2 linked regions of the Homo sapiens genome follow. The protein of the gene in region 2 purifies or fractionates together with the protein of the main gene of each other region. This does not show direct contact. Each region holds a gene or a part of one and is shown on either strand. Other genes may lie near its edges. The genes, in order: MTHFR and SPATA19.

The links.
Region 1: the proteins of SPATA19 (region 2) and MTHFR purify together in Homo sapiens (affinity purification with mass spectrometry; 2 studies listed by BioGRID and IntAct, with this or other methods). This does not show direct contact.

What each region holds. Positions count from the first base shown.
Region 1 is NC_000001.11:11,788,881-11,792,687, forward strand, and holds part of MTHFR (methylenetetrahydrofolate reductase (NADPH)), read right to left. Parts: intron 3,500-3,807; coding exon 3,398-3,499; intron 2,447-3,397; coding exon 2,327-2,446; intron 2,019-2,326; coding exon 1,800-2,018; coding exon of another isoform or gene 1,660-1,799; 3' UTR 580-1,659; coding exon of another isoform or gene 390-579; 3' UTR 164-389; coding exon of another isoform or gene 1-163. Other genes in the region: uncharacterized protein C1orf167, read left to right, coding at 1-163. UniProt on the Homo sapiens protein: Catalyzes the conversion of 5,10-methylenetetrahydrofolate to 5-methyltetrahydrofolate, a cosubstrate for homocysteine remethylation to methionine. Represents a key regulatory connection between the folate and methionine cycles.
Region 2 is NC_000011.10:133,843,347-133,847,253, forward strand, and holds the start of SPATA19 (spermatogenesis-associated protein 19, mitochondrial precursor), read right to left. Parts: upstream 2,168-3,907; 5' UTR 2,101-2,167; coding exon 2,023-2,100; intron 1,845-2,022; coding exon 1,788-1,844; intron 1,295-1,787; coding exon 1,163-1,294; intron 992-1,162; coding exon 900-991; intron 1-899.

The sequences.
Region 1 (3,807 bases), on a different chromosome or scaffold from region 2:
GGGTCAGTTCCATTACAGAACACACAGGCTGGATGCTGGAGCCCTTGCTTTGATTTGTGGCCCCAGCTCAGGCCAGGCCCACCCGGTCCATCAGTTTGCGAAGAAGGTGTGGCATGAGGCATGGCTGCCACTCACACTAGCCCATGGAGGGCCTGGGTCCTGAGCGCCCCCTCCCTCATTTGCTCTGCTCTGAGTACAGCTTCCCAGCTCACCATCAGATCTATTCTGAGCTTGTGCATTTGGCCTAGGCAAGACTGGCTGGCTGCTTGGGGCAGAGGGAGGGGCCCTGGGGACAAAAGGAGCTGGGTACAGGGGTTGCTCTAGCAGGCACAGCACAGACCCCGGAGAAAGCCCACAACAATAGCATTTCCTCTCCTCCCTGGTTCCAGGCCTTTAAGAAGTGGCACCAACGCCTGGCAGCCAGGAGCCCAAGGAGAGGAGCTGCCAGTAGCCCAAGACCCTGGAGCAAGCCAGGCCCCAAGGGCCCCGAGAGTGGACAGGAAGCCGCCAGAGCACCGCGGGGTTGGGGGCTTGGGGCAGAGCATGGGGCCCAGCTGCAGCTGTGACTTGTTCTCATAGAATAAAAAACAGAACTGAACTTAGCCTTCCCAGGGAAGGAACCATGCCCCACACATCCAGGGAGTGATGACAGAGGGGACAGCTTGAAGAGCTCTGAAGGACAATAAAACCCACTCCTCAGTCCTAGCTGCTGCTTTCAGTCTCTCCTAGCGGCTGCCCCTCTGCCCCAGCCAGTGAGGCCAGGAAGGGAGTAAAGAGGACATCCCACAATTGCGTCCACCCCCTTGGCCATCAGGCTGCTCTTCCACTACACGAAACAGCCCATCTGCACCTGCCAGTCACTGCCCCCAGGCCCTGGGGCTTGCAGGTGACTCGTGGGGAGCCAGGCCAGGCAGATAACCTCTGGGACAGGACGAGGGGATGAGGAAGGCAGCTGGCAGGACAAGGGCCTACCTGAAAAATACACCAGGAAGCTGGGCTGCTGCACAGGCCCAGGCAGATCTGGGGCCCCTGTGCTGGCAAATCTCATCTTAGCCTCTGACAGGGAACGGGGCAGCATCAGGCCTCCACAGCCAGGCAAAAGGGGAAGGCCACGAGCCCCACCAAGCACAAGGGTTCAGACTGCCTTCAACCCTTAAGGGGCACTTTTTCTCTCAAGGCTCAGAATAGACAACTGTGCCAAAAAGCAGCATGGTAGGTGTCAGCCCAATGCCCATCCAGGGGGCTGGTGCCATGGACGGCTAAGTGGGCAGGCAGGGCAGTGGTGTGCCCCTTCAGTCACAAGTAGGTGGGGCCCAGCTGCCCACCTCTAGGAGGTGGAAGGGTACAGCACTTTGCCACATCTCTTCTACGATGCCACCAGTGCCTGATGCCCTTGCGTGTTTTGCCTGTACTGCACGGGCTCCAAGTGTAAGTTCACTGGGAGTCCCAGGCTGGCTCTGGAGGCTGCCTTGGTTCGAGGGCTTAGTTGGCAACAACCACTCTCCTCGCCTTCTCAGGAGGTGCCACCCACTGTGGTCCTCTGCAGGACGCAAGTGCTCCCCACCAAAAGAGCACAGACTCCTGGCTAGAGCAGAGAGTACTAGGTTCCCATGTGGGGCCGACTCAGGTCCAGGAAGAGCCTGGAAGCCTCACTCCAGTCTAGCTGCCATTGTCAGGTGGGGGAGTGGAGGCCGGGGTGGGAGAGACACGAAGGAGAGTGGAGTTCCCAAGAGAAGCAGCACTGTGGAGGAGGAAGGCGGGACAGGAGTGGCTCCAACGCAGGGCGTCAGGACGCAGGGTCATGGAGCCTCCGTTTCTCTCGCATTCTGGGTGGGCCTGTTGAGAAGCTCCAATGTGTCTTCCACCACCTGCCAGAGGCAGTTGTCCAGTGGGAAGTCATTGTCCACCAGGTTGACCAGGAAGTAGTTGTCGTGGATGTACTGGATGATGGTGCGGGACGGGGACTCCTCCTCATACAGCTTTCCCCACCGCTCAATCCACAGGGCAAAGGCCTCGTCCTACACACACATACCCCCGCACACACGCACACATGCACACACACACAGAGGCAAGATTAACAGGGCTCTCCAAGGGCTCTGCTCAACAGGACATTTCCCGGAATAGAACAAGGCCCACTGCCAGTATCACTTCCCACCCCTGCCCAGAAATAAACACCCTGCATCAGCAGTGACATGGGTGAGTCAGAGCTGGGTGTGCCCTGAAGGCTGGGTCCAGTGTGGCCTTCAGCACACGCTTGGGACTTGGTCCCAATCCCTCCCCACGGTTTTCCAGGTGGGCGGGGCAAGCTTGCCCCCGGCTCCTTTACCTTCCAGAACATGAAGCTGACGGGATCCACTACGGTGGGCTGGATGATCTCTCGCCCAGGGAAGATGCCCCAAGTGACAGCATTCGGCTGCAGTTCAGGGGCATTGGTGATGTTTTCACCCTGAGGGGATGTGGGGTGGGGGTAAGACCTGGGCCAAGAACAACTGGAGTCCCACTGCCTGGACAGCCTTGACTCAATGAGGCTGTCTGGGCTCAATACCCTCTGCCTGCGCCTCCACTCCCGGCCTCCACTCTCCCTGCGCCTCCACTCCCCTCTCCCTGTGCCTCCGCTCCTGGCCTCCTCTGCCTGCATCTGTGAATGATATCTCTCCCCACACAAGCCTGAACCTAGAGGCGTCCTGGCCACTTCCCCTCTCCTCCTTGAGCACCCCCTGCTCACTCTCTGATCCATTCCCTCTTGTCTAGCCCACCTCCAGGAGTGTGTTTGGCTTGGGTCACTCCAGGGGTCTCTTCACTGGCCTCCCCGGCTCTAGCCGTCCCCAATCTCTCTCATCCGTATGACTATCCACTGTGATTTGCCTAAAATAAAGCAGGAACCAAGCCACCCCACTGCTGGAGAAAGGCTTCCCTTGCATTGAGGGAAAACTCAAATTCCAGCAGGACAACCATGATCTCTGCGGGCCTGGCCCCTGCTTAACACTCCCGCCTCCTCCTGCTCATGTTCCCCGTTTCCCCAGATGGTGCAGCTCACTGCCTCTGCCTGTCCTCTGCCCTGTCCCAGGAATACCCTTCTCTCCTGTTGGCCAACTCCTCTTTGTCCTCAGTGATTCCCACAGATGACCCTCTGAGAAGCCTTCCCTGGCCTCCCAGGTGAGATATCCCTCCTCTGGACCCGACAGCATCCTCTCCTGAACTTGATTTTCCCACTTACACTGGCTGGTGGTCACACATTGATCTGCCTCCCTCACTCTAGGCTGGGAGCTCCTTAAGAGCAGGGCCCCAGTTCTGCCTGTATCTCTCTGTCTTGCACAATGCCTAGCCCAGGCTAGGTGCTGGGTGTTTGCTCAACGAAGGGCCTGGTACTCTGTGGGAACCCTGGGGCCTGGCCTACCTTCACATTGACAAGGTGGTAATTAACCCGGAGCTCGTACTTCTTCAGCACTTGCAGAAGTGCTTCCGCTGTCTCGCGGGAAGTGAAAAACTCTAAGTAGGCCTGTGGGAGAGACAGGTGCCTGTCACCAACCCCAGCCCTGCCAGACGCCCTTTCGCAGACACCTAAGGTATCAGGACTACTGGCAGCCATGTGGGCGGAATAATGAACTGTGGCGTTGGCACGTCCATAAGCAAAGGGTGAGGGGAGTGGGGACGTGAGTTTCTCAGTCTGGACAGGTCTGAGGGCTATCAGCCACCCCTCTCCCAATCAGTCAGGGAAGACTCCACGAAGAAGCCATTTCTGAACAGCAGCAACTGGTTTGACAGGCCGAGTCATGGGAGAGAGGCCCCACACATTCCATCCTCCCC
Region 2 (3,907 bases):
TTAGGGGCCTCAGAAGGCTTCCCATCCAAAAAAACTCTTTCCCAGGGAGCTCTCAGATCCCACCATGTTATTCCTTTTGGTTATGAAATTACTGTGCATTTGAGTCTTCCTAAAAGGCAGATGCCACTAGAAGGGGTAAGCACATGGAAACCGTTTCTTGAGAAATGGAGCCTCCTTGATACAACAGATCAACATCGATGATGCGGCAGGGAAAGGAGGAAGAGAGGAGGAAGGGGAGAAGTCTCCTTCAGGTTCCCGTAGGACCAGTCTAAGCCCTCAGTCCCTCTCCTGGGAAGGGGTGGCTGATGTGCTCCAGAGACCCCCAGTGAACACAGGTGCAGGAAAGGAAATAGGAAAGCCTCTGTCTGAAGCATGATGGCTTCAGGCCAGCTCCCTGGGCCTCGGGGCTCAGCATCTGCAGAGCCACGAGAGGCAGTGGGGACGGCTGTGAGCTGGCAGGCACCCGGGACGCTGGCGAAGCCACCATAACCGAGTGCAGAATTCTAGCCTCGGGCGCTGGGAAGCCTCCCCACACCTCAGTTGCAGATGAAAACTTTGGCTTTTGCATTTTAAGAGCTTATTTTCTTTTAGCTCTTTAAAGTGCAGCCACTTCTGAGCAACTCAAGTGCAAAAATAACAGAAATCTGAAATGTATTCAGAAGCATTTAAGAAATGGAGTGCAAGCCCAGTTTTCCAACCCCTCAAGTCATTTAAAAATGTAGAAATGAGCTGGGCTTTCAAGATAGCAAGGATATTCCCTTAAGACCCCAAAGCAAGGCTGAGGAATTTGTCAGCCAAAGACGACATCTCTAGAGAAGAGCATCTGAGGGTTCGTGAAGAGAGGGGCTTGCGCATCTCTCCCTCCCCTTCCTTCGCCCAGGGCAAGTGGGACACCTTACCTCCATCTTATGAACTGGATTCGTGTTCTCTCCTCTAGGACCTCTTGGCTCTGGTTTGCCAACAAATCAGACTTAGAGAGGTGGTGCTTCACCTGGGAAATCCAGAGGGTCCATGTGATTCCTGCCCAGTGTGGCCCCCAACTGGGCTGGCACAGAGCCCAGACGAGCACCTCACCCTTGCCCAGAATCATTTACGGTGCACCTCCCACCTCTCCCCTCTCCCTCACCGCTACTCCCAGGCAAGGTCTCAAACTCTCATTTACCACATCTCTGGTCACGTGGATGTCCTGGCCATGGGTGGGAGGGGAGTCAGTGGACATCTTCTCCCTTACACCCTGGGAAGGGTGGTTGATGGACAGCTTTTCCTTTATGCCCCGAGAAGCCTCTTCTTCTGTCTGAAAGGTGAGAAATTCCCTCTGAAAATGTCACTCTGCATCCAACCCTGGGTCTTCTTCTCCTCTTCCTTTCCTTTTATTCATTCTCCATCACAACTCACACACCACATATTCACACACATACACTCCTTACCTCACTGTTCCCACAATAAGCTACTTCCCTGTAAAGTCCTCAGAACTCCCTAAGTCCCTGGCCCTATCCCAAGGTGTTCCTGAGACACCCTTGAGCTGGGAAGGATGCAGCTGAAACCCTTAAGCCAGGATGCTTGAGAAGCAGGACGGCGTTAGTGGTGGTGCTAACACATTTCCTGCCAGGACACAAGCCACAGTGTCCTCCAGCACATGTGAAGAAATTAGACTCAAATCTAGGAAGGGTGTCTGGCAATGAACTTGAGTTCCAGTTCCATGAAGAAGGAAGTCCAGATCCCCACACCCACTGAGACCACTTCTCTAGCATTTTGGATATCCTGAGTCATAAAGAAATCTTACTCACTTTTTTCAACCAATGATGTAGTACAGACACAGCCTCACTTTCCACAACGTCAATGTCCTGGAACAAATTGGCAAGTTGGTGACCTCAGAAAACCTAGAAATTCAGCTCTTCCCACCCAGCCCCCGCAACTGTTACTCAAATTTATTTGTAAGATCTCTATGAAGTGCAGCAGGGTCCCACAGGGGGAGAAGATATATGAAAAATTATTCCATGTGACTACCACCAAGCTGCTTACCGAACTGGTTATTGGTAGGAAGGGAAGCCCTACACCTTTCCGAGCAAGAATATACACAATCCATGTCGTAATTATCATCTTTGAATGTATACCAGGCCCCCTTCTTGGCTCCCTCCTTCCATTGAAGCTGCCTGAGAACTCCTATGGGACAGGAAGGTCATTGAAGGGAGGTGTCCACCTGATTGGCTGACCCATGGTGATGTGACAATGGCCTCCCTTTGAAAATGATGTATGTGAGTATAAATGCCGTTGCCAAGAGCCCCTGCATTTCAGGCTCTGGGTGCACTCCTATGAGTTACCCTGCTTCAAGGAGCAGAACCATTGAATAAAAGATTGCTGTCTAACACCATTGGCTGACCCTTGAATTCTTTTCTTGGGAAAGCACTAATTTGGGAGCTCACCTCCAGGCAGGAGGATGGGGTCTGGAGCCAGGAAACCTAAGGCCGATTTACACTGACTTCCTAGAACTAAATCAAAAGGAAAACCCCAACTTTCCGTGCCCAAGTAACAAAAAGACCAGAGGCTACGCCCTTTGCAACCCTCTCCTTTTCTGCATGGCAGATGAAAAACTGAAAGTATCTCTGATTGCTCCCCTCCCACAATCAGGCTGGTTGTGGGCCAGGTCTTCATTTGCATAGAGATATAACTTTATAACTTCACTTCAGCCTCTGATTGGTCACTTTCCGCAACCAATCAGACTGATCATGAGCCACTACTTCATTTACATAGGGTATATACCAAGTAACCAATGGGAAACCCCTAGAGGGTATTTAAACCCCAGAAAATTCTGTAACCAGTCTGCTCCCATCCTGTGGAGTGTACTTTTATTTTCGTTAAATCTCTGCCTTTGTTACTTCATTCTTTCCTTCGTTTGTGTGTTTTGTCCATTTCTTTGTTTAAGACGCCAAGAACCTGAACACCCTCCACCAGTAACAACCTGTCCCGCAACAACTTGTCATGTGCTCTTGACCTAATCATTAGTCCCTCTGGTCTGAGTTTCTTTGTCTTATACTGAAAGGGATAGAGTTGTGTCCCTAGCTTTCTTCTAACTCTAATATTCCAAAAATTTTCCCACGTTTATTCTTCTCAGGATTATAGAAAACCTTTTATCACTTTCTCCAATTCCCCTGATACAGCCACTACACGTCTTCCCTCTCAACAATTCGCCTCAATTTTATATCATCCCTGACATAGTCAGAATCGGCTAGGCTCTGCTGAGGACTGAGGCAACAAACCAACCTCCAAATCAAAATGTTTATTTCTCACTCTCAAAAGCTCTCGTGCAAGTTGGGTAATTTCAGAGCAATTGTGTGCCATGTGGAGACTCACAGGTCCACATTCAGAGGACACGACCTCCATGACTGCCAAAGCAGGGAAGAGAGCACAGAGAGGAATCAGGTCAGTGTTCCACCTTTCAGCTCAGAGGCTCCTACTTAGAGCTTTTGATCTAGAACTAGTCCTATGGCCCCTACCTAATTCCAAGGAAGACTGGAAATTGTAAAATAGCAGATGAAATTACCTGTCAACATCTCTGTTTCTACAGCTATCCCCTAAAATTTATGTTTTCATCCTTATTGATGTAATTTTATTTTTGAATATTTAAAATATTAATGTGATTCAGAAATCAAAACATGAACAGATACATTCAAGGACGTTCCATCTCTTCCCCATACCTTCAACCTTGTTCTAACTCACTTCAGAAGTAAAATTTTCATTAGTTTCTCGACGACATATCCTGTGCTTATGTTGTCAAAATGAAGCTCATACATAAATCTATTTGCTTTTTGATTACAATGTTATAAAATGCATACAGTAAAATGTACAAATATGCATACAGCGGAGAAAAATTTTTACACACACACACATACACACACACACACACACA